Homo sapiens: one gene and its partners. The protein of the gene in region 2 interacts with the protein of the main gene of each other region in a pairwise test. Each region holds a gene or a part of one and is shown on either strand. Other genes may lie near its edges.

The links. The genes of interacting proteins can lie anywhere in the genome.
Region 1: the proteins of PMP22 (region 2) and CLEC12B interact in binary tests that used the Homo sapiens proteins (3 or more experiments, as listed by UniProt).
Region 3: the proteins of PMP22 (region 2) and TMX1 interact in binary tests that used the Homo sapiens proteins (3 or more experiments, as listed by UniProt).

What each region holds. Positions count from the first base shown.
Region 1 is NC_000012.12:10,005,136-10,014,938, forward strand, and holds the start of CLEC12B (C-type lectin domain family 12 member B), read left to right. Parts: upstream 1-5,491; 5' UTR 5,492-5,624; coding exon 5,625-5,715; intron 5,716-7,649; coding exon 7,650-7,748; intron 7,749-8,669; exon of another isoform or gene 8,670-9,387; coding exon 9,388-9,606; intron 9,607-9,750; exon of another isoform or gene 9,751-9,803. UniProt on the Homo sapiens protein: Inhibitory receptor postulated to negatively regulate immune and non-immune functions. Upon phosphorylation, recruits SH2 domain-containing PTPN6 and PTPN11 phosphatases to its ITIM motif and antagonizes activation signals.
Region 2 is NC_000017.11:15,229,279-15,234,326, forward strand, and holds the end of PMP22 (peripheral myelin protein 22), read right to left. Parts: intron 3,336-5,048; coding exon of another isoform or gene 3,265-3,335; exon of another isoform or gene 1,803-3,264; coding exon 1,639-1,802; 3' UTR 501-1,638; downstream 1-500. UniProt on the Homo sapiens protein: Might be involved in growth regulation, and in myelinization in the peripheral nervous system.
Region 3 is NC_000014.9:51,242,299-51,251,558, forward strand, and holds part of TMX1 (thioredoxin-related transmembrane protein 1 precursor), read left to right. Parts: intron 1-1,557; coding exon 1,558-1,673; intron 1,674-1,791; exon of another isoform or gene 1,792-1,926; intron 1,927-3,014; coding exon 3,015-3,060; intron 3,061-4,793; coding exon 4,794-4,922; intron 4,923-7,027; coding exon 7,028-7,073; intron 7,074-7,169; coding exon 7,170-7,271; intron 7,272-7,394; coding exon 7,395-7,467; intron 7,468-9,260. UniProt on the Homo sapiens protein: Thiredoxin domain-containing protein that participates in various redox reactions through the reversible oxidation of its active center dithiol to a disulfide and catalyze dithiol-disulfide exchange reactions.

The DNA of each region.
Region 1 (9,803 bases), on a different chromosome or scaffold from region 2:
ATGTTTACTGATCACTGCAGATGTCCAAGGCACAATTCTATTTTCTGGGGACCAATGGTTAATGAATTATACAAGCATTTAGCTTATATTATAGTAGAAGGTGGTCAGCACAGATAGTAAAGAAACATAGAAAGCAAAGATCAAGATAATTGTATATCATGGAAAGTGTTATGAATGAAGAAAAGTGATATAATCGAGTTCTTCTGGACAGGCTCAAGCAGACCCTCGTTGTGCTCATGAGGATTGGTTTGTTTAAGCTTCACTGTCAGTGCTTGGACAATTGCCCAGGTTTCTTCCATTTTTAATATGATCCAGAATAATCCAAACTTGCTTCTACGATGACAGCTGCCATTTATTGCTCTTTCTATATGCTTTTATCAGTTATATTTGTGGCAGGAATTAAATTTATGACAGATTTACTATTAAGAAAAATAAAGCACAGAGGTTCAATAACTTGCCGAAAGCCACAAGGCAAGTAAGTGTTGCTCCAGGATTTGAATCAATTTGTCTGTCTTCATAGTGCTTCATTTTAATTGGGATATTTTATTATGCTGGTCAGGTATATTCACCTGATGGGGTAAATATATTAATACATTTCAAAATAAATTCCATCCTATATTCATCCTCTGTCTCCTTCTTGTGGCCATTTATTTTCCTTCTGCTTTTAGTTTATTTTTGTTTCCTTTAAGTCTTTGATACCTCTGGCTTTCATCTTCACTTTTCCCTATTTCTTTTTTGTAAATAATTCGGAATTAATTGTCATTCTTGCCATTCTCTGGGTACTTTCCCATTTAAACCCCACTTTAAAAGTGTCCTCTGAAATAGGCATGAAATGTGAGAACAGAAAGAACAGAGTGAGAATGAATCCTTCTGTCATGTTAACTCAATATTTCTTTTAAGATCTTCTAAATCAATAATACTTCCACATTTAATAACTGTGTTTCCATATTTTCCAAGGTGAACAATATTTTCTGACAAGTTTAATTCATGTGAGAGCAGCAAGAATTGTCAAAGGTGATTCCAAGTTTTTAGCTGAGAAACTGTACGTATGGAGTGTACATTTGTTAAGATGAAGAAACACATTGGGAAAAGGTACCCATTTTTTGATGTGTTAAGCTAGAAAATCCTATAATATATCAAAGTGAATATGCCAAGAATCCATTCAGATACGTGGTCCTGTAGATCAAGCGCTGGTATGGAGATAACAATTTTTGGACATTATCAATGTATGGCTGTTATCTCAAGGCACGAATCTATAAGAAATTAATTCCCATTCTGGCCATTCTCTGGGTACTATTCAATTTAGTTCATTCCAGGATAAGTTTTTTGTTTTTTTTTTAAGAAGACCAAGAATTGAACTCTAGGACACAACAACATCTTAAATTAATTTAAAGAGGAATCAGTTAATCTGAGGGAGGATTGGGTTGTGAGTGAAGCAAAAGGAAAACCAAGAGAATGGTGTCCTAGGGAACAAAGCATTTTGGAGAAGAAAGTTTGTCACGAAAAGTGAATAATCAGTTATTTAAAATTCTGTTTATACGATGTGTAAGATGAATCCTGAGAACTAGCCATTGGATGTGTTTATACTGAGGTAATGTTGACTTTAGCAGGAGTGTTTTTTAGAAATAGTGAAAGAAGGGCCAGGCGTGGTGGCTCACGCCTGTAATCTCAGCACTTTGGGAGGCCGAGGGGGACAGATCACGAGGTCAGGAGATCGAGACCATCCTGGCTAACACGGTGAAACCCCGTCTCTACTAAAAATACAAAAAATTAGCCGGGCGGGGTGGCAGGCGCCTGTAGTCCCAGTTACTCTGGAGGCTGAGGCAGGGGAATGGCATGAACCTGGGAGGCGGAGCTTGCAGTGAGCCGAGATCGCGCCACTGCACTCCAGCCTGGGCAACAGAGCTAGACTCTGTCTCAATAAAAAAAAAGAAAGAATAAAAATAAAAAAAGAAAAAAAAGAAATAGTGAAGGAAAAAGCCTAATTAGAATAGGTTTGGGAAGATCATAGAGAAATTTTTGAACCCATTTGTTGTTAAGAAAATTAGAGAAATGGAGTGATCATGTGTATGGTGTTACGGTGAACAAAAGATGGCTTCTGCTTGTTTTAATATAGGAGATATTATATCATCTTTGGAAGTGAACATAAGTGAACAAGTAGAGATGAAAAAAATGGAAAAATTGATAGAAAGAGAAAAAGAAGGAAAATTACAAGCTTGAAATCTTTAAGGAGATAGGTGGATGGATTTTAATATACAGATGGAGATTGATCTTAGATGAGTAGTACAATTCAACCACTGTTGAAAAGAATACTACCTCATATACTGATGTAGCTGTTTTGGTATATTTGACTAGTGAAACAGAGAAAACTTCTTTCTGAATTTCTTTTTTTTCTTAAGATAATGTTAATGGAAAAGCCAGGTTATCCGTTTAGTTTGTAGAAAGAGAAGACAGAAAGAAATTTGAGAGTCTGAGAAAGAAAAAGAGATTGGGAATAATCTTTTAGGAGATTTGCAGAACAGATTGATTAGTAAGAGTGCTGAGAAGTTACATTTCAAAAACGTAAGATAAAACCAGTTAATATGATCACATTCAGCTACTTGAATGTATGCACAGAGTAGGTAGGGTTGGATTTAAACAAGCTGCATTTTCTAGATGCTTATGATGAATGAAGAGGTAAGCAAGGAAGTTGTAGCTGTGGGTAAGAAAACGATTTTTATAATTGGCCCTGGTAAGTGGTGCATGCTGGGTATAATAGGAAATGAGACATGAGGGATTGACAACAATGAGAAGTTGGCATGGTCAGTGAAGTTGCTATCTCAGTGGGCACTGAAATGCTGTAGAGTGTAGAATACCCAGAGAGAGTGGGCTGGAAACATAGGAGGTGGAGGTCAGAGAGTGAAATATCTGAAACAGATCATGGAAGAATTTCTCATATTGGAAATGAAATTGTCTGCACTCTAGTGCAGTGCTGTTCAATAGCCACGTTGCTAATAATGGAAATGTTATTTACCTGCACTGTCCAATTGCATAGCCAATGCCACCTGTGGCTGTTAAGTACCTGAAGTATGACTAGTGTGACCTAGGAAATAAATTTTAAATTTAATTTAATTTTAATTAATTTAAGTTTAAATAGCAATTATATGCCTAGTGATTACTACGGTGAATAGCCTAGCTCTAAACTAGGATCATCTAGTGGGTGACTGATTTTTGTGTGTGAGCAACTGATTTCTGAGTGTGGGTAAGGTTATTGGAGGCAAATTCAAGAACTGAGAGCCCATAGTATTGGAATTATCACCTACCTGAATGTCGAAATCACATGATAATCATGATAGGAGTAGAGATCAATAAGATTTAAGATAGTTGAAAAAATAATGAAGAAATAAGGAGAATTTGGTAAATGACTGCAACAAAGTGAGTTTTTAAATAGTGTAACTGATAAAATAAGCTACAGAAATGCTGTAAGTTTTTAAGGGAGAAAAGTATATAAAGAAATGTCTAAATTAATATGATCATACACTAATAATGATAGATGATATAGCTTTTTGGATCATAATAATAGAAAGTATGTGAGAAGTGTTATCAATCTTCTCTTAGAAATAATTAGGAATCAGGTGACATTCTTCATCATTGTTCAAGCTAAGCATCATTTCATGGATAGTGAGAAGTTAATACTTTGTTAGGAAGCTTTAAGGTATGTGAAAGAATTAAGGAAATGAGGATGAAAACCCAGTTTTTGCAAAATCTGGTGAAAGTCATGAGACGTGAGGCCAGCCAGACTTCCTGAATCGAGTGGGGACTCAGGGAACTTTCCTGTCTTACAAGAGGATTGTAAAACGCACCAATCAGTGCCACGTAAAACGCACCGATCAGCGCTCTGTAAAACGCACCAATCAGCAGGATTCTAAAAGTAGCCAATTGCGGTGAGGATTGAAAAAAGGTCAGTCTGATACGACAGAAACGGAACATGGAGGGGACAGTAAGGAAATAAAAGCTAGCCACCCCAGCCAGCAGCAGCAACCCGCTTGGGACCCCTTCCATGCTGTGGAAGGTTTGTCATCCTGCTCTTCACAATAAACCTTGCTACCACTCAGTCTTTGGGTCCGTGCCATCTTTAAGAGGTGTAACCCTCACCGCAAAGGTCCGCGGCTTCATTTTTGAAGTCAGCGAGACCAGGAACCCACCGGCAGGAACCAACTCCGGACACGGACCAGAACAGAGATAGAAAACCATTCTTAATTTCTTATTTTTGTAATCATCTATTTAAACTGGTCCTCATGTCAATGGTCTCTGCCTTTTCTGAATTCAACTAGAATAGTAAACATAAGCATAGATTTATTATTTGTTTCAATATTTTTGATAGTGGAGTTTTATTGATATATGACTTAGAGCCTCCAAACATTTTTTTGATTATTTCATCAATTTGAAAAAAAAAAAAACAAAAAACATGAACAAGTAACATATGTATATTTAGGTGTTTAGAGATCATGCACAGCGTTCCTAAAGAGAAAGTTTTTACATTGCCTTTCTGCATCTGCTTCACAGCTGTGGGGTGAGTGCACCTCACGCTGGACACCTTTGACTAAGATAATCTCCACACAGATATGAACCTTGGAAGTTTTAGATCACTCCCCACTCATCTGAAACCACAAAACTCATACCCAATCCTTCCCCTAAGTACAGTTATCTAATATTCTGCCTCTCCCCAAAGGAAAGCTTTAGAGGAGATTCCTTAATTTCGTCCCTCATATATAGCGCTCCCCCCCCATATTTTCCTGGGTTCTGTATTAACTACATATTGCTGCTGTAACAAATTACCACAGATGTATTAACTTCCGGTAGTTATCTTTTTAAAATCTTGTCCTGTGTATTCCTTGCTGTCTGCAGGATTATCCCATGGTTGTTGTTCTGTTAGGAACTTTCCCAACCATGCCAGAAGAGGGCACTCCCATTCATACTCACGTTAAGTAGCTAAGTAGCTATCAGTTTCTTCTCCATGCTCCATTACCAACACCATGTCTCTCTCTCTCTGTCTCTCTCTCTCTGTCTCTCTCTGTCTCTCTCTCACACACACACACACACACACACACACACACACACACGCTTGAATTTTCTATAATAGCAGCCAGGTGTGTGGCACAGCTCTTTCTGTCTTAATGTGTGTCTCTCTGCTTAATATCTAATGTGGCTGAGAATAAACTAGAACCAATGTCTCCAGGCAGATTAGCTAGCCTTAGATAGATGTAAAGAAGACAACCTGACTCTTTTCTGAAACATTCAGAGCATCCTCTACCCCGAGGATCATGGGAATTCCCTCATGTTCCTCCTGCTCTGCCTCAAGCACCCCTTCTTTGCTGCACAGCAAGAAACAGTTCTGACAGAGCAGACAGTTTGAGATCTGTAACATTCTAATGAGAATATCTCTAAGGAGAATATTTGGCTTTTCTCACTTTCTCTGTAGAGAAACAAATTGTCATTCTTCTCTTACAGAGGGGCAGTAGAGTGTGTCTGGGTCAGCTGAGTGACTACATCAAAGCTCCCAGCCTTGAAAAACACATGCTGTTCCCAGGCCTCAAGATATTGAAACATTAATTAGATAATTTAAAGTAGCGTTTTCTTCTACAATGTCTGAAGAAGTGACCTACGCGACACTCACATTTCAGGATTCTGCTGGAGCAAGGAATAACCGAGATGGAAATAACCTAAGAAAAAGAGGTAGGAGTTCAGAGAAGACCAGCTGTGTCCTTGGGGGAGTGGACAGGTGTTAAATGCTTTGAGGTGCCAGCTTTAATACTGGCGTTAAAGACATGTGCTGTGAAATCTCCAAAATGGGGACAAATAGTTGTGGAATGTATTAGAAAAGTGAGTGTTCCCAAGGTTGAAGTGAAAATATGTGGCTTTCAGAACCTCTTTAAAGTTGTGTGATATCACACAGTCAGAGAAATTCTGACTGCACATGCCAGAAATTGAGCTTGGGGAATTAGAGATTTCTTCTTATGAATATAATCCTTGATATTTATACCTTGTTAGAGATGCCAGGAGGATATTCTTTCAGAAACCAGATTGGAGGCTTCTAAAATAGAGAAGGTAGAGGACGTTTTTCTTTTAGATGATGTAAGTTACTTAAGAGAAAACTGGAAGATGAGTGAGTGGATTAGAAATAGATCAGAGCTAATTTTTCTTTTGTCAGTATTTTTTCAAATTTTAGGGTAGTTGAAATCCGAGCATAATTTGTAATGTTGAACCAGTAATAATAGTATCTGGGTAGTATTTTATGTACATTATATACAGATATAATTGTAATGAAAATCCACAATAATATTCGAATATTAGTATTTTCTCCATTACATAGATGAAAAAACTGAGGGTGAGAGAAATTAGATAATTTAAGCAAGCTCACACAACTGCTATGTGGGGAAGCCCAGTCTCAGTGCTGGTCTTCAGCTCATTCTCTTATGCCTAATTGGAAAAATAGCAGTCTCCATGGTCAAGACTCTGATTTAATATATAAGACCACATCTCTTATTTTCAGATATGTTAACTATCCAGGTTCTCCTGAATCATGTCAGTCATCTGAACTACTTTCTCCTGCCCTCTAGATTTATCTTTACATTTTGTGTGGTGCATGACATTTGAGGGAAGGATATTTACAAAAAGCCGATGGGAATAGACTTTGCATATGTCTAATAAATGTGGTTACACATTTTTGCCTTGTTTTGTTTTACTTTTTAATTCTAATTCTAACCTGTGAGGAAAAAGGAGGTGTGGATATGGTGCATATCACAGTGTACCTAGAGTCTGTCATGCTGTATCTAAAACATTGCGCTAGATGTTATTTGGACCTAAATCAAGGGATATGAAGCTAAGGAAAACATGACAACCATTGATATTTTAAACAACAACAATGACTAGGATGCTAACGGCTTTCTGGTCTATTCTGCTGTTTGTAGGTTAGACTGCACATTCTTTCCTTCTTTCATTCAGTATTCATTCATTATTTATTAGGTGATAAATAGCATGAATAATAGATAAGTTATTGTTAACAGGTAAAAGATACTTTAAAAAGTCGAATCCACTTTTACAAGGCAGATAGAACATGTGCCTTATAGAGACTTTTGAGCTCAAAAGCTTGAGGTGTCTCCTACTGTCAGCATCATCCAGAAAAGCAGTTTTTAGATCTCTCATTTATGAATTCAATAAACTTGAGGAAGAAAAGTGGGCAATGATGTAAAACAAAAACCTTGAAATTAGGAGAAGCTTCCTTTTTATTTTATTATTATTATACTTTAAGTTTTAGGGTACATGTGCACAATGTGCAGGTTAGTTACATATGTATACATGTGCCATGCTGGTGTGCTGCACCCATTAACTCGTCATTTAGCATTAGGTATATCTCCTAAAGGTATGCCTCCCCCCTCCCCCAACGAAGCTTCCTCTTAAAGTGAAGGAGAGCGGTGGAGAAATGGAGGGGAAACAAGGATGGCACCCTCATTGCACTTCATATTAGGTATTTTCTAAATGAGGGCATTAAAGAAGCAAGAAAGAAACGTTAGTATCGGGAAGCTCCCTAAGTGGGAGAAATAAACAAACCAAAGTGAAACAAGCACAAAGCAGTTCTGTGTGCTGATTGCTCTTTTGGCTTTCTCCAGGGCATCCAGCTCCATCTCCCATTTGGCGTCATGCTGCTCTGGGTCTGGTAACTCTTTGCCTGATGTTGCTGATTGGGCTGGTGACATTGGGGATGATGTGTAAGTATATCAGCATCAAACCCAACAAAGGCAACTAGAAAACATATTGTAAACCATGTACTTTCAGCTTGGATTGTAGATGGGTCCTAGCATCCTGAATCGTCTGATACTTTTCTGCTGTCTCATATCTCTCCTATTCGTCATATCTTCCCAAAAAACCGGCAAAAGACATTATCAGGATTTGGTTCTAAATTCATTGTTTTATCTTGATAAGCTAAACTGGACTTAGACAAAGACTCTTTGTTTCCAGTTATTCATTAGAATAAAGAGCCTCTTTTCTGCCTAGACACACATTCACTTATCATTCCAATGCTGAGAAATAAAGTCAAGAAATATGTATTGAAGGAAGTGCTTGCTATTTTTATTTACCTGAAAGACTTAACACTAGACTAGGTTCAGTCTGCTTACATGAAACTTCTCTAGTGGAGAGAAATCTTCCAAGTAGCAGCAGCAGCCTGATTTCTATGAATGAGAAAGACATATAAACAAAGAGGAAGAGTGGCCTGATACACCTTACCAAGTAAGAGAGTTGAACCATCTCCACATGACAATGGAAGCTCCACTCTCAAGCACCACAGCCACAAAGGAACATTCTATTGATTCTGACCCATCCTCGGGAAGTTGGGGATGAACATGGTAGGGAGTTCTTGAGTAATGAGAAAAACATCCTGAGAATACAAACTTTATAGGGTTGTTAAGTATATGGTATACAGAGTAGTGAATTGGCATGGTATTCGCTTACAGGGAACTCACAGTCAAGAAAGTTAATTTGCTGAATGATACTAACATCTCCTCTGCTACATTCATTTCTTTTTAATGATTTAATGGATAATTTTTTAGGATTTAATGGTTAATTAGGATTTGGACATATCTTTGCCAACATAAAAAGAGACTAATGATGTACCTTGCTCTTTTGAAAAGGAATATGATGTTCAAGCAGCAGTAACAGATATTCTGGAGCCAATCAGTATGAGGATTAGCAGCCGATCTTCTACAATAATGTATATTTAAAAATTAAGTGAAAATGCAATAACGTACGTCCATTGGTTCGATATAGAAGGGTGACATTTCTTTTCTAAAATTTAGTGCTTTTGGTGCAGTGGTTCTTAAATTTGTTGTGCTGATGAAGCACCTTAAATGCTTATGAAAAGGGCATATTTCATGGACCCATGACGAGAAATGGTCTGATATGCCATTAAGATCTGCTTTTTCTTTTCTTTTGGTAAACAAGCATCTCAGGTCATCTGCAGAGTTTGAGATATCCATTGTCCCAAAGAATGCTGTTTTCATTAAAACAACAATTACATCATCTATCTCCAAATAAAATAAAACAAAAATAAAACAATTTCATGAAAATGAGTGGCAGAATGACTGGCCCTTCCTTAGATGTGATGTCAGAAATATATCATTATTAAATCATTATTTTAATATAGTGCAATAATAAAAATGTAAATAAAATTATAAAGAACTATAAATAATTTGGAATAGAAAGGCATCTGGTTTGTTTCTTTCATGATACCTCAAATACTAAGAGCTACTAATAAATCTTGAACAATTAAGAAATGTTTCTGTCACGAGAATTATCTACAGTTATAAGAATAGAAGAATATATGAACTTGTCTCCTGTCATGTCTTGGAGTTTTGCAGATATCTAATGACATTAACTCAGATTCAGAGAAATTGAGTCAACTTCAGAAAACCATCCAACAGCAGCAGGATAACTTATCCCAGCAACTGGGCAACTCCAACAACTTGTCCATGGAGGAGGAATTTCTCAAGTCACAGATCTCCAGTGTACTGAAGAGGCAGGAACAAATGGCCATCAAACTGTGCCAAGAGCTAATCATTCATACTTCAGGTAATCAGACTTAGTCCTGCTGACCAGTCAGATGGCATATGTTATCCTGGTCTAAGTTGATCACATGTACCACCTAAGAGTATTGAGAGAGTTATGTCATCCAGTGAACCTTAATGATGTTGCACTAAATTTACACACAGCAAGGAAATATACAAATTCATTTAATATTTTTGAAACCACAGGCAAATTTGGGAAGT
Region 2 (5,048 bases):
TTCTCTCCTTCAGGATGGCATTAGGAGCTTAGTTGGTGCCAACCAATGTTTTATCTGCAAGTGTGGCCTCAAGTCACCATCATTCAGACCTTTCACCATATCATACCTCAGGGTGAGGGATCTGAGATGCTTCTGCCAACATTCCCAGTATATCAGGGCAGCTCATGACATGCCTCCATGTTTTCCATGTGGGTCATCAAACAACAGAGCACCAGAGAGGGTTGAACTAAATGAATACTCAAGTGCCTTCCAGTCCATTTACAGCCTCCATTTCAGCTGCAATTCCCAACTGTCTCCAATTAGCAAACCTTTGCACAGACATCATGAAGGCATCATGTGCTCCCTGTAGCTTGTAAAACAGCTATGATTTTGGTGCCTTAGCACCATCTTGTAACCCAAATCTCCAGCTCAACTTTGCTTTCCACTGAAGCTCTTCATCCTGCTCCAACAGGCACCTTGTACCCACACCCAAGTTCCCACAAAAACTCAAGAGAGACCAGTGAGTTACTCTGATGTTTATTTTAATGCATCTTAGTCCACACAGTTGGTATAAAATCAGAAAATGCAAAGCAAAAACAAAAGGTCTGGAGTCTTAGCATCAGAAGGGCACCATATATACATCTACAGTTGGTGGCCAATACAAGTCATTGCCAGACAGTCCTTGGAGGCACAGAACAGCCTAGACCCAGCCAAGCTCTAGGAACTCACGGTCCCAAGGAGTCTAGACGCTTGTTCTGATGCTCCGACCGTAAGAAAAATGTGGGAGTGATGAAGGCTTTATGATTTACTCATTATAGTAATAATAGCAGCCTAGCTAGGTACAAAAGCAGTTATAAACCATTTATATTACACAGAATTATTCAGGTCTCCATTCTATCTTATGTTGTAAAATTGTTAATTGGATTTCCAGTGAGTTGTTTAGATGATTAGTGATAATAAGGAATGGTAAATCCATAGCACCATTTCAAAGACTTGTTGTCACTGATTTCTCATTTAGATGTGTGACGAAGATACTCCACCTGTAAGGGCAAGTATGCCAATGCCACAAGCCGTGTTTTTGCAAGGGCTCCAGTTTGGGCATTTTGTCCGTGTGCGCGTAAAGCTTCACACAGAGGTTCGGGCAGCGGCTGTTTCTGTTGGATGCACTGGGTCACCCACCAGAAAAGGGCTTTTGGACATTTGGGGTTTCTACCCACACTTTGGTTTTCTAAATGAGGTGGACTGGGAGGGAGGTATCTTCTTTCAGATGAAAGGGAAGGGGCGAGATGGAGTTATCTTATTTCTGGGTAAAACAAAACAAACAAACAAAAAACAAAACAAAAATACTGAGCTGGATTATACTGTTAGGATGTAAAGTTCCTTAGCTACTTCTTTAAGGCTCAACACGAGGCTGATGGTCAACATAAAAAGCAAACAATACTATGTACATATATGTAAAAAGTGTTATAAATAGGTTTTATAAACCGGAGATATTATATACATCTTCAATCAACAGCAACCCCCACCTCCACTGCTTTCTGTTTGGTTTGGTTTGAGTTTGGGATTTTGGGCTAGCTCTTTTTTCTTTGTCTGCTTTCTGTTTTCCCTTCCTCCCTTCCCTATGTACGCTCAGAGCCTCAGACAGACCGTCTGGGCGCCTCATTCGCGTTTCCGCAAGATCACATAGATGACACCGCTGAGAAGGGCCAGGGGGAAGGCCACCCAGGCCAGGATGTAGGCGAAACCGTAGGAGTAATCCGAGTTGAGATGCCACTCCGGGTGCCTCACCGTGTAGATGGCCGCAGCACTCATCACGCACAGACCTGGGGAAGGAGAGGGACAAGCTGGGTGACGGAGAGTCCATGGCAGAGCGGCCCCCTCTCCGCCACCCCGGATGCTGACAATTGCTGGGTAGGAAGAACATTTCTACCTCTGGAAGGAAATCTGCTTCCAGGTCCAGAATTGAAAGGAGGTAGCACAAAAATATGGGAACAAGGAAAACAACTTGCTCTCTATTTCCAATCTTGGCCACCTAGGCCTTAATACCTGAGGGTTTTCTTTACATTTTCTGCCCTATTTCTCTTTCTTTCACTGTCACCAATTCCCAGGCCACACTACATGGCCAGCAGGCATTCAGGCTGCAAGAAAAACCTACCTGTCTCTTTCCAAGGGTGGTTGGGTATGGAAACCCCTGGAAATCTATATGCCACTCTACAAGTGAGTGGTGGCATTACCTAAAGCCAATGGAAGTGAAGTGACATTTTACCATTATTGGAGTCACGCCATGGTAAAAGGATTAAGCTCCATGCAGACCACAGGGGCCTATGGTCCCCCTAACAGAGTTGCCACATACCAGGTGAAGCAAGCAATGCCTATGGGCACTGCCAAACAGACAAAGAAATGTGTGGAGAGGGAAAAAGAAAGTGAGGAATAAGGATGCAGCCGACAGTATGACTGGGAAGCCACGCTGCAGAGGGGGAAGATGATCAAAGGCAAGCTCCATTTCCCTGGGTGCCCCAAGGTTGCATTTGAAGCCCAAAGAAGGCTAAAGGGCACTGGATATGCAGGTGGGTCAGGCCACCCTCCCTGGCCCACCAATGCAGCCCTTCGGTGTTGGAAAGAGAAGAAAAGCCTCCATCTTGGGCCCTGTGGAGCAGCCACGCTCAAACTGATGGCCCCAGCTCACGTGACAGACAGCGTCCCCCCACAAGGAGGGGTCCAGTGATGTCAGCACCCCAGCCTGGAGCTGCACAAAGCCTGGTCTGTTTCCTCCCTGAAAACAGGGTCTTTGAGAAGCTCTGAGTGACTCTATTATAAATCCAGTATGCCGTGTGGGATTCATGCAGTTCCAGAGTTCCCAATGCACCCGCGCCCCCCCACCGCCCGGCCACCTACATCTAACCTCACTGCTATTTGGGCTGCTGTTTTACTGGACACTGCAACTTTGTTTGAAGACAGTGCAGAAGTGGGAATACGCCACATGAACCACCCTGTTAAGCCTGTCCTCCTGCAACTCAGAGGAGAAAACTGCCACTTGACTGGCCCCTGTCAAGAGAGCCACACAATAGTCTTGGAACCAAAATGGGACAGCATCCAGGACCTGCCACCTACAGGAAGTTCAGAAGACAGCAAAGATGGCCATGTCAGGAGCGAAATCATTGCGGGTTAATTGTTGATTGCAGAAAACAGCAGTTTTGATCTGCTGGGGACACACTTTATTTGCCTTGAGGTCCAGGATCCTTAATTATCTTGCCCCACTCTTCCACGGCTTGCATCTCCAAAGTGCTAACTCTTGTCTTTAAGAAATACTGAAGTTGTCTCTTGGGCTCTGTCTGACTTATCTAATGAAGGCAGGGCTATAAAAAAGGAAACATGACCTTGGCAGAGAGAAAGGTGTTAACAGAGTGCTAGCAGGGCAGGACAACACTTATCATCATGCAGGCAGGGCTCCCAAATGGGCTGTCTAACCAGATCTGGCATGAGAAATGCCTCAGGAGCTGAGTGGACCAGCTACTCCCCGATTTCACTGACTAAGAGGAGATACCAGATTCCATCCTTGAACAAGAGGGATAGAAAGAGGCAGTATAGAGAAGTGCAGCGACTAACTACACAGCTTAATGTGTATGACTTTCATCTTAGTAGAATCTCAGAAGTGAATGACTCTAAGCTTAACCGTGATAAGCAGTAAACTTAGATATCTACAAAGCCAAAGAGAGGATACACACTTTATATGATTGTTGTCATGAGACTGATGTTTTAGGGAATATATTATTACAAGATTGTCTGCATGTAAAGCAATAGATGTACCCTGAAATAGAGAAAAGGATGATTCTTTGGCTGGGTTCCCTCTGTCTGCAACCCAAGACAGTTAATGTCATCCAGTAGTCATCTCCAAAAGCCAAATACCCCTAGTAAGTGGACTGTGACTCACTTTCTCAGCAACCAGTAGGTGGAGATGTATCACCAGGTCCCTGTGGCAAGGGTAAGTGAGGCCCTGAGGCACAGGCAGATGTTCTGCTCTTTGGCAATGACCGGGACTCCCTGGTAGGGGCCTGAGTCTGGGAGCATAGGTCATCTTTAAGCAGAAGGACACTGACCCTGTCCAGACAATACAAATGTGCTGAGCATTCAACTTACAAGAGTTTCTCCCTGTCTCAGGATGGGTAGGTCTGCAACAACTTCCTGCAAGTTCTGCCTAAAGCCCTTTTGAAGAGAAAGTCTTAAGCTCCTTTAACAGTGACTGCAACCCCATGAGAGTGATTAGAGCCCAGAGCCTCTGGAAGGAAGCACCCAAGGGGCCAAGGTCAAAGGAAGTAGCTGAGGGAATTCCCAGTACATCCTTATCATCTCCATTCCCTTTGGTTCAGTGAACATTTAATGAGTGCCTATTGCATGCGGGCCCTGTTCTAGCTGCTGCTCTAGATGTACCAAGATAAGTGAGACATGGCTCCTACCTTAAGGACTGTGTGTCTAGAAGACAGACATTTGCATATAATTTCAATATAGTTCGATGGAATTTCGAGAGAGGGAAGGAAATGCACCAGATGCCCCAAGAGCATAGACGGGCGCTGAGTCCAAACTGGAGAACTGGAGAAGCCACACGGACTCTCATATAATAGGCTGATTAGCTCACTAAGGGTCAGGAAAGAGAGGGCCTTACATGACATGTTAAGGAAGCTGTGATGAGAAGCCTCTGAGGAAACTTCAGCAGAGGAGAAACATGATCAGACGCACGTTTTAGAATGATCACTCTGGCCATGGTGCAGAAAATGGATTCAGGGGCAGGGACAAGGCAGGTAGCTGGAAGGTGCATGAGGAGGCCTTTGCATAGCTGCACTGGGGTTAGTGAGTCAAGACAAAGAAATGGGCGTAATGCCTACGGAGGATGCTACCCAAATGCAGGATTCAGTAGAAGGCTGGCTGTGGGGTGAGGGAGAGAGGAGAGGCCAGCATGACCGCCTGGTGTGTTCACTCAGGCAAGTGGGAACACAGCGATGTCTCAGAAGCCAGGGGAATAGAGCTTCAAAGAGTAAGTAGCTAACAGTATTGAAAGGAGCAGAGTGATCCAA
Region 3 (9,260 bases), on a different chromosome or scaffold from region 2:
GTGCCTGTAAAATAGTGTTATAAGCAATATATTAAGCAATAGTGATCGTGTGTGTATATGCAAAATACAGTCAAGTATTACTCAAGGATATTTTTTAACTCATTATGGTCCAACTATATAAATACAGCAATCAGAAGTAGTATTAAGGAGAACAAGACTAACAAAACATTGAGTATGAGGTAAATCCACATTGGAGCATCTATCTGAAATTATGCTATAGAGTAGTAGTTTTTCTTTTTCCTTAAGTAGAGATTCTAAAGTAAGTTTTTAGAAAGCAACTGACAGCCTGGGCAACATGGCAAAAACCAGTCTCTACAAAAAAATACGAAAAATTAGCTGGGCGTGTGGGCAGGCATCTGTAGTCCCAGCTACTTGGGCTGAGGTGGGAGGATGTCTTGAGCCCGGGAGGTTGAGGTTGCAGTGAGCCCAGATGGCGCCACTGCCCTCCAGCCTGGGTAACAAAGCGAGACCCTGTTTCAAAAAATAAAAAAGCAACTGAGCAACAAAACGAACCTGAAAAAGAAGGACTCTAGTAGTTTTAGTAATAGTCTGCTCCTAATTACAAGTGAATTATCTACAGTAAATCCATTTCTGCTCAGAAGTTTTGTCATGGAGATATTTTCATTGTAATACGATTTATTGTTAGGAGCTTGGCTTTTATACTACCAGTTTGTCTTGTTCTACAATGTCTATTTTAGGAGTTTGGTTTTCATAAAACAAGTGAAGAAAATGTGAAGTACAGAAAGTATAGTTTTGTGTTTAACTGCTTTAGGCTTTATTCTTCCTGGTTCTGTTAAAAAAAAAAAAAAAAAAAGAACAACCCTGTGGTGTATTATAAGATAAAATACAATAAAGTGGAAAAATAAGATCCTCAGGAGATAATACCAGAGGAGTAATTTAAATGCTAATATGCTTGCATTTGTAAATCCAAGGTCTTGGAAACAGGATGACCTAACTGGCCAAGAGTTTTGTTTGGCCTGCTTAGTATTTGTGTGTGGGTTATTTTTTGAGGTAACATTCTCATATAAAAATGCAGCTCTCCATCTTCTTTTAAATATGAATAGCCAGCCTTAGTGTGCCAGCATCCTTAGTGGCAATCCTACTTAATAATGGTTGCCACTTTAAGATGGAATATGTGCTTTCTTATTCACCACAGCCCAGGACACTTCTGTTTTTCCAACACCTTGCATTTGTGACTCTGCATTATAAATTATTAAAATTGGTAAGCTCTAACTTTGGTCTTGAGCTTTCTGGTGGCCACACCGTTAATAGAGAAATGCAAAAGTTTTCTAAAGAGCTGTTTTGCATGTGAAAAAATCCTGTGTCTTATTCTCAGAATTTTATTTGATTAGCATCATCAGTTCATCATTCTTGATTTCCGGATTGTTAGATCTACCCTTAAAAGTTTTTCATCTGCATAAAATTAACCACCTTATCATCTTCAGTGTTTTCATATGAAATATTCTTCATAAATTATACATTTAAATTTTTTATCCCAAGATAAATGGTCATACTAAAGTGCTTAACTTTTTTTAAAAAAAAATCTGTATTTCTTAGTTATGCCCCGTGGTGCCCTGCTTGTCAAAATCTTCAACCGGAATGGGAAAGTTTTGCTGAATGGGGAGAAGATCTTGAGGTTAATATTGCGAAAGTAGATGTCACAGAGCAGCCAGGTACTGTAAGTCTTTGGTTAGTTTTGTTTCTTTGCTGTTTGGGTTGATATATTTATCCTTTTTTCTACATTGCATAGTCTTAATTCTACCTTTCTTTAGGTTTTGAAAACCTAACAGTCTGCAGCTAGTTAACCTGACTTGTCCACCTCCCTGCTGGGGGCTCAGTGTGCAATGGTTGCAAAATGGAGATTCCCTGGTTGTGTATACACCTCATTTCTTGAATGTGTTGCTTTAAGGGTTCTTGAAGACATTACCCTCTTTTTATTCTTGCCCACATAACTGCCTCTGATTTGTTGTTCTTTGCATCCCAGGCCCCAGACTAGTATGTAAGATGCCTTTGAGAAGTCCTAGGACACTGTGGTTCAGGTGAACATTGGCCAAGCCACATTTGCATCCATACCAGGCTTCAGAATAAGGAGCATGTGGTTGAGTGTTTTTCTGGAGTCAAGGTCACGTTCCCTGACAAAAGAAGACCTGAATCTCTGAAATTGAGTTTTAAATTTAGTACCTATGATTTGAGGATGTGGGCTTCTAAATATAAAGCCCTCGTGGTTGTGAGGTCAAGTGCACTCCTGACTTGGTCCCTGGACAAGTGGCAGGTCCTGCCCTTAAGGAGGTTCCTTCCACAGACCAATCTCATCTTACCGTTCTCGGTAGTCACACTACCCTTGGATTCTTGGCTGTCCCATCCCAAATGGTAATAATAGGTAATATTTATCGAGCGCTTGCCTATTATAGCACTCTTCCAAATATCTTGTGTTTATTATTTAATCCTTATACAACCCCGTGAAATATGTAATGTCCCCATTTCACAGATAAGAAAACTGAGGCACAGGTCAATTCTCTGTAATATCAGTGCTTGACACATGGCTAACAATAAATGTTAGCTGCTATTATTTTTGCCTGTCTCATGAAAGATTCATAGTATTTTCCATTTTTAGCAGCACCATAAACTGCCTTTGTTTGTTGAATGTCAAGTACAATTCCATTGGATTTTAGATCTAAGACCCTATTACCTTGTGCTCTCCCATGAGCACAAGGTGCTCTTATTACTAGTAGTCTTAATTTTGACAGTGATATAAATGTTGAAGTGTTTTTATTTAAAAATGTATTCAGTACTCTAGTTCTACATACTTTTTAACTGAGATAATGTGCAGTATTGTGTTTTTTAAAGTTGCTTTAAGTACATAATTCATTTTTAAATTATGTATTACGAAGCTCAACTATTAGGTATAATTTCATATTCTTTCCTATTAGTATGTATTTAAATAATTCAAAGTCACGTTTTAAGTAGTCAGTGATTGGCCTATGTAAAACCTGCTGTGTGTTCTTTATTTGTAGGACTGAGTGGACGGTTTATCATAACTGCTCTTCCTACTATTTATCAGTAAGTATTTGAAGATTCTAAATTATGGAGAAGGATGCATTATAGTGTAATCAGAAGTAGTAGGCCTCTGGCTTGGATCATGCTGGAAGAGCTGAGGTAATCTCATTATATTCAGCAGGTATTTTAGAGGGCTTGTTTTGCTTAGTGTTATCCTAGGTGCCTTTAGGTAGTTGAGTGATGTGTGAAACAGTCTCTGTTCTCAAAGATTTACAGTTGTTTTGGAAAGTGATGTTCTTGTGAAATGGTGTGATCCTGTTCAGCGTGTTAAGTCATTATGCATCCAAAGTAGTGGTGAGTCCTGTAGGTAATTGGATAAAGGAGAAATCACAGTTACCTGGATTGGTTCCCAGAGAATATGGGGTTTAAATGAAACCTTGGAAGTAGAATTTTAAGAGTGGAGCGTAAGCATTTTATTGTGAGGACAATCTCATAAACAGTCATTAACAGGAACATGTTATGTCCAAAAAGTAGCTAAGAAAGTGCTGTTGTACAGCCTTGGGTAGAGTAATAGGTGACAGTTGGGTAATAAAACAGAATGAGCAAGATTATGTAGTCTTCAGTGTCAGGTCTATTAGTTTGACTTTATCTTCTAAATTGAGGGTATGAAATCTCAAGTCTGTGTACCCCAACATCATGTAGCTGGTAGGTTAAATACCAGGAGGTACTGAAAATAAGTTGACAATTCTTTGTATTTATAGCTTGCTTTTCTTTGCCCTTTTTTCTTTTTTTTATGGTTTTAAAATTCACCCCTACTCCCTTTACATCTATATAAATTTCTGTTCGCTGTCTCCATAAGTGCTTCTGTCCTGCCCTTCTCATTCAGTCCTTTTCCCCACGTGCCCCTTCAGTCTCTCCCTTTGCTTTTCACTTCTTAGTGCCCTGTGACCTTATTTGGAATTTCCTGCCCTTTTTCTTTTAGTCAAAATTGTTTACCATATCCTTTCTCCTGTTTCCTGCCTGTCGAAATCTTACCTATGCTTCAAATAATAGCTCAAATGACACTTCACAAAAACTTTGTGTTTTGGGGTGGGGGGCTTCCTCGTGGTTTTTACCTCTGAGTGGATAAAGGGTCCCTTAACCCTACTTAACAGGTCCCTAGTAGGGAGCTGATGAGTTTTTGCACTTAAAGATGTTGGAGCCAAGAGAACATTTGTGACTCTGACAGAACTTTCTACATTGGGAATGGGAAGGAGGAGGTGGATCTAAGGAAGGCTGCAAAGCTCACTAAATAGTCACTGAAATGAGAGGAAGGGAAGCACCATACCAGATGCCTCCAGTGATTTAAAGCAGGGTGTCTGAGGTGATGCTATTATAGCCAAAAGTACTAGAAAAATGCCTTAAAATTTTAAGTTATAGCTTAACAGCTAATAATTACTATGTGCCAAGCACTATTCTAATAATTTTTATATAATTCTTTTAATATGTGTATTACACATAAGGCTTAAAAGTACTTTCCTGAGATTTATCTACTTACTGTATTTCATAGTTTCATTACTTGGAAGAATAACAGTAATTACATTTTAAGGCTTATGATTTAAAAAAATGTAACCTCATTGTTAAATTGGGGGCTAAAATGTCATGAGTAGGTAAATAGTATAATTTGCTATTAATACTTGTACATTGCTAATGCTTTTGAATGTTAGAATTGACTGTAAAGTGAAGTGAAAAAATAGCAAAATAAATATTAAATTATTTCTCAGTGCTGGATAATATTTAATTCTGATTCTCTTTAGTTGTAAAGATGGTGAATTTAGGCGCTATCAGGGTCCAAGGACTAAGAAGGACTTCATAAACTTTATAAGTGATAAAGAGTGGAAGAGTATTGAGCCCGTTTCATCATGGTTTGGTCCAGGTTCTGTTCTGTAAGTATGAGGGCTTTTTCTCTTACCCATTTCATAATTAATTGGAACAGATAATTATATTTTATGTAAAGCATTCATACTCAGTTTGTTTCTTGAGCTGTTAAGGTATATCCACATTTATTACATGTTTGATTTTTTTTTTTTTTTTTTTTTTGAGATGGAGTCTTGCTCTGTCGCCCAGGCTGGAGTGCAGTGGCGCAATCTCGGCTCACTGCAAGCTCTGCCTCCTGGGTTCACGCCATTCTCCTGCCTCAGCCTCCCGAGTAGCTGGGACTACAGGTGCCCACCGCCACACGTGGCTAATTTTTTTGTATTTTTAGTAGAGACGGGGTTTCACTGTGTTAGCCAGGATGGTCTTGATCTCCTGACCTCGTGATTTGCCCACCTCGGCCTCCCAGAGTGCTGGGATTACAGGTGTGAGCCACTATGCACGGCCTACATGTTTGATCTTTTTAGTTTGACCTTCTAAGTCAAACATATTTTCATGCTTCTTGAGTTAGAGAAGGCATTTTATAGAAGTAAGTTGTACACCTTTTCAGGAATATTTTAGCTTGCTAGATTTGGTCATATGTATCATCAAAAACTAAATGCCCCTAAGAGTCTTCACAGTGTAATGGGTAAAGCTATCACTCGAGTGTAATAATTTGAATGAGTAGGCTCAAACTTGTACTCATGCTACCTCCAGACTTCAATTTGTCTTTTAATGTTCTGTCTCCATAGAGACCGTCAATAATTGCCGATACCAACTAAATTAATTACATAAACTTCAACTCTTGATGTCAAGCGACTGAATTATGTTTGGTTGGTTATTCCACCTGTCTGATAACTTCTTATATGAATAGTGTGTATAAACGGTGACCGTAATAGTGTGCCTAAGCACTGAGCTTTATAGATATCTAGAGGGTAGATGAATTTCCTCGTAGCAACTGGCTATGGAGTGATAAGGATTGGAAGTAGCAAGCATGCTTTCTGCTTTGCTGTTGGAGTACAAGGCCTCACTGGTCATGTGAGAGACCTCTGGGAACAGTGAGTTTTGCTGAGGTCACCATGGACTGATCCTGTGTGGCCATCTGTCTCTTCCTGTCCTCTCACCACACTTACCTTTGGAGGATAGGGAGTTGGGACAGTAATCACATAAGAGAAAAATGCTCTAGATTCTGGGGATGGGAGAAAGATTAGCCCTGTTAACACTCACCCATTGAACTACCATGCCCAACTCAATTTTGGATCCTACTGTTTCTGAAATAAATTACTGCAGACTACAGTGAGGCTATACAGTGCTTTATGTTTCAGTTCCTTGTTTCTCTTCTCACTTGGCTTTTAAACAACAGAAGCAACATGATTAAAATACCTTTCTGTGTCGAACTAAAAGTATAACTGATTTTTGTTCTCTGAAATCTCATCTCATAAATGAATCTTGTCCTTCCAGTAGAAGAAAGTAGTTGCTTGTAAGTCTATTTTCAAGCAGCTACAATTGGGAACTCACAGACCTTTCTTATTTCTGAAACATGCCTTTTTAAAACTGGCCATTTAATTATGTAAAATACTAATTTTTGCTTATATGATGACTTAGCATTTATTTCCTATGTAATAATTTTGTATATCATTAAAAGATGTCAAACTAATGCTCTTGTAAATTTTAATTAATTTCAATAAAAAAGAGGGATAGTTCTTAAATGGAAAGAATTGGCTTGACAATTGTTTCCAGTCCTTACTTTAGCCTCCCTTTGGTCTTGCTTTGAAGGCTTTTAAGGGTGAGTAAGAGTTGCCTTTTCCAACTGGTTTCATGGAACTTGTAACCCTTTACTCAGTGTATTGGAGAAATCATCAGATGAAATACAAAATATTAACATCAAAACAGTGGGAGAAAAGGAAAAAAATACTGTCAAGTATTTTTATTTATGAGGCTGTCACATGGTAGTGTCAATTTAGAAACAGTTTTCATGAAGAAGGCTTATTACAGGCATGAAATCAGTGATGTGTCACTAGTCTTGATTAACAGCAATAAAATCTGTCATATTGGGGAAATTATAGAGTAGAAAATAGTATGTATAGACAAATCTGTGTATGTTACTCAGTTTTTTAATCATCTCTTTTATTTTTAGGATGAGTAGTATGTCAGCACTCTTTCAGCTATCTATGTGGATCAGGGTATGGACTAAAATATTTTTATCTTAAACATTTTTACCACTATCACTTTAACAAAAATGAACAGATTTTTAGTTTTTTTTTTTCTTTTGATTTTAGACTTGCCATAACTACTTTATTGAAGACCTTGGATTGCCAGTGTGGGGATCATATACTGTTTTTGCTTTAGCAACTCTGTTTTCCGGACTGTTATTAGGACTCGTAAGTATTTCATTTTTGGAGTGCTAGGAAGAAAGATATTTAAAAATGTGATTATTTAAAATAGTTACATTAGCTGTGGCATATATTCTACATTCAGATTTCTTACAATGTTTATTTTTACAGTGTATGATATTTGTGGCAGATTGCCTTTGTCCTTCAAAAAGGCGCAGACCACAGCCGTACCCATACCCTTCAAGTAAGTATATTTTAAAATGTTTATTTTTTATTCACGATAGTCCTATTCATTTCTGTAATCACAATCACACATTTCACAGGTTGCTCTTCCAGCTTAGAATTCTAACTGTGGATTGTTGGTCTTTATCAGCTATGGCATAAAGGAAGGTAGAGGAGATGTATATTTCATATAAGAATGTAGCCCAGTGGATTTTGGAACATTGTTATTTTCTTGACTCTTATATTATGGGGAATTTTAACATTGCATATAGCATGTAGCTATTTAATAATATTTATTTGGTGTCGTTTTATAAGTGGAGTATATTCTACTCTTGAAGTCTTTCATTAGTATACCGGCCGCCACATTTGAAGATTATTCTTTGAATGCCAGCCAACTGTAAGTTTTTTCTGGTAGGATATTGGGAAAAGCAATCCCTATAGTTGATTTAGGATGCCACTGACACTGAACTGTACTACAGAACAATTTAAATAATTACAAGCATTTACCAATCTTGTAATTGTACTGTTAATGGAAGCATTTATATTTGCAGTTCTTAAAGAACTTTTACTTATCTGTTACCTCGTTTGCTCTTCAGCACCTCTGTAGTAGAGTGCATAGGTGTTACTGCTCCCATTTTGTACTTGAGGAGACTAAGGTTCACAGTCACACAGAAGTGACAAAGCTGATTTTAACTAAATCAGACTTGTGGCCTGATATTCCTTCATTTATTATGTCTTTTGTTTGTTTGTTTGTTTGTTTGTTTTTGAGACGGAGTCTCGCTCTGTTGCCCAGGCTGGAGTGCAGTGGCGCGATCTTGGCTCACTGCAACCTCTGCCTTCCGGGTTCATGCTATTCTCCTGCCTTGCCCTGCCGAGTAGCTGGGACTACAGGTGCCCACCACCACGCCCGGCTAATTTTTTGTGTTTTTAGTAGAGACGGGGTTTCACTGTGTTAGCCAGGATGGTCTCGATCTCCTGACCTCGTGATCCGCCAGCCTCGGCCTCCCAAAGTGCTGGGATTACAGGCGTGAGCCACTGCGCCCAGCCATGATGTCTTTCTTAACTTAGCTTATTGAGATCAAAATTTCCGAAATGAAGTCTATGGAGATTGAATTTATAGTGTACCTTGTCCTTTCATACTGGTAGGTCATCTTTTCATTTCTTAGATAGTTGCATTGATACTAAAAAGGACATGCATAGGGGATGGAATCATTTTATCCAAAAAGGGCCACTGATGTCTAGGAAAAAAACGTAAGCACAGATTACTTAAAAGACAAATGTATTGTTAGGTTTAAGGTTTTTGAAGTGAAATGAATATAAAATGTTTACTCACCAACTTTTAAATTGTGAATAAAATGTAAGATATAATTTAGTAGATACAAAAGATAGATATATAAAAGTAGCTATACCGATGGTCCCTGACCTACAATCATTCAACTTAAAATTGACTTTACGATGGTGCAAAATGAATATGCGTTCAGTAGAAACCGTACTTTAAATTTTGAATTTTGACCTATTCTGGGCTACTGGTATGGAGTACTTTTGTGATGCTGGGCAGATTAGGTTAGGTTAGGTGTATTAATGTATTTCAACTTATGTAAGGATAGGTTAGTTGTATTAAATGCCTTTTTGACTTATGATATTTTCAGCTTATGATGATTTATCAGGGTATAACCCCATCATAAGTCAAGGAGCATCTGTATTATGTTTTGTTTTTTTATATTCTGTCTTCACCCTCACATAAATCATATGGCCGTCAGAAAATCCGTTGTGTGATAAGTGTGCAACTAGCATTGGATCCCATAAATGTACCAA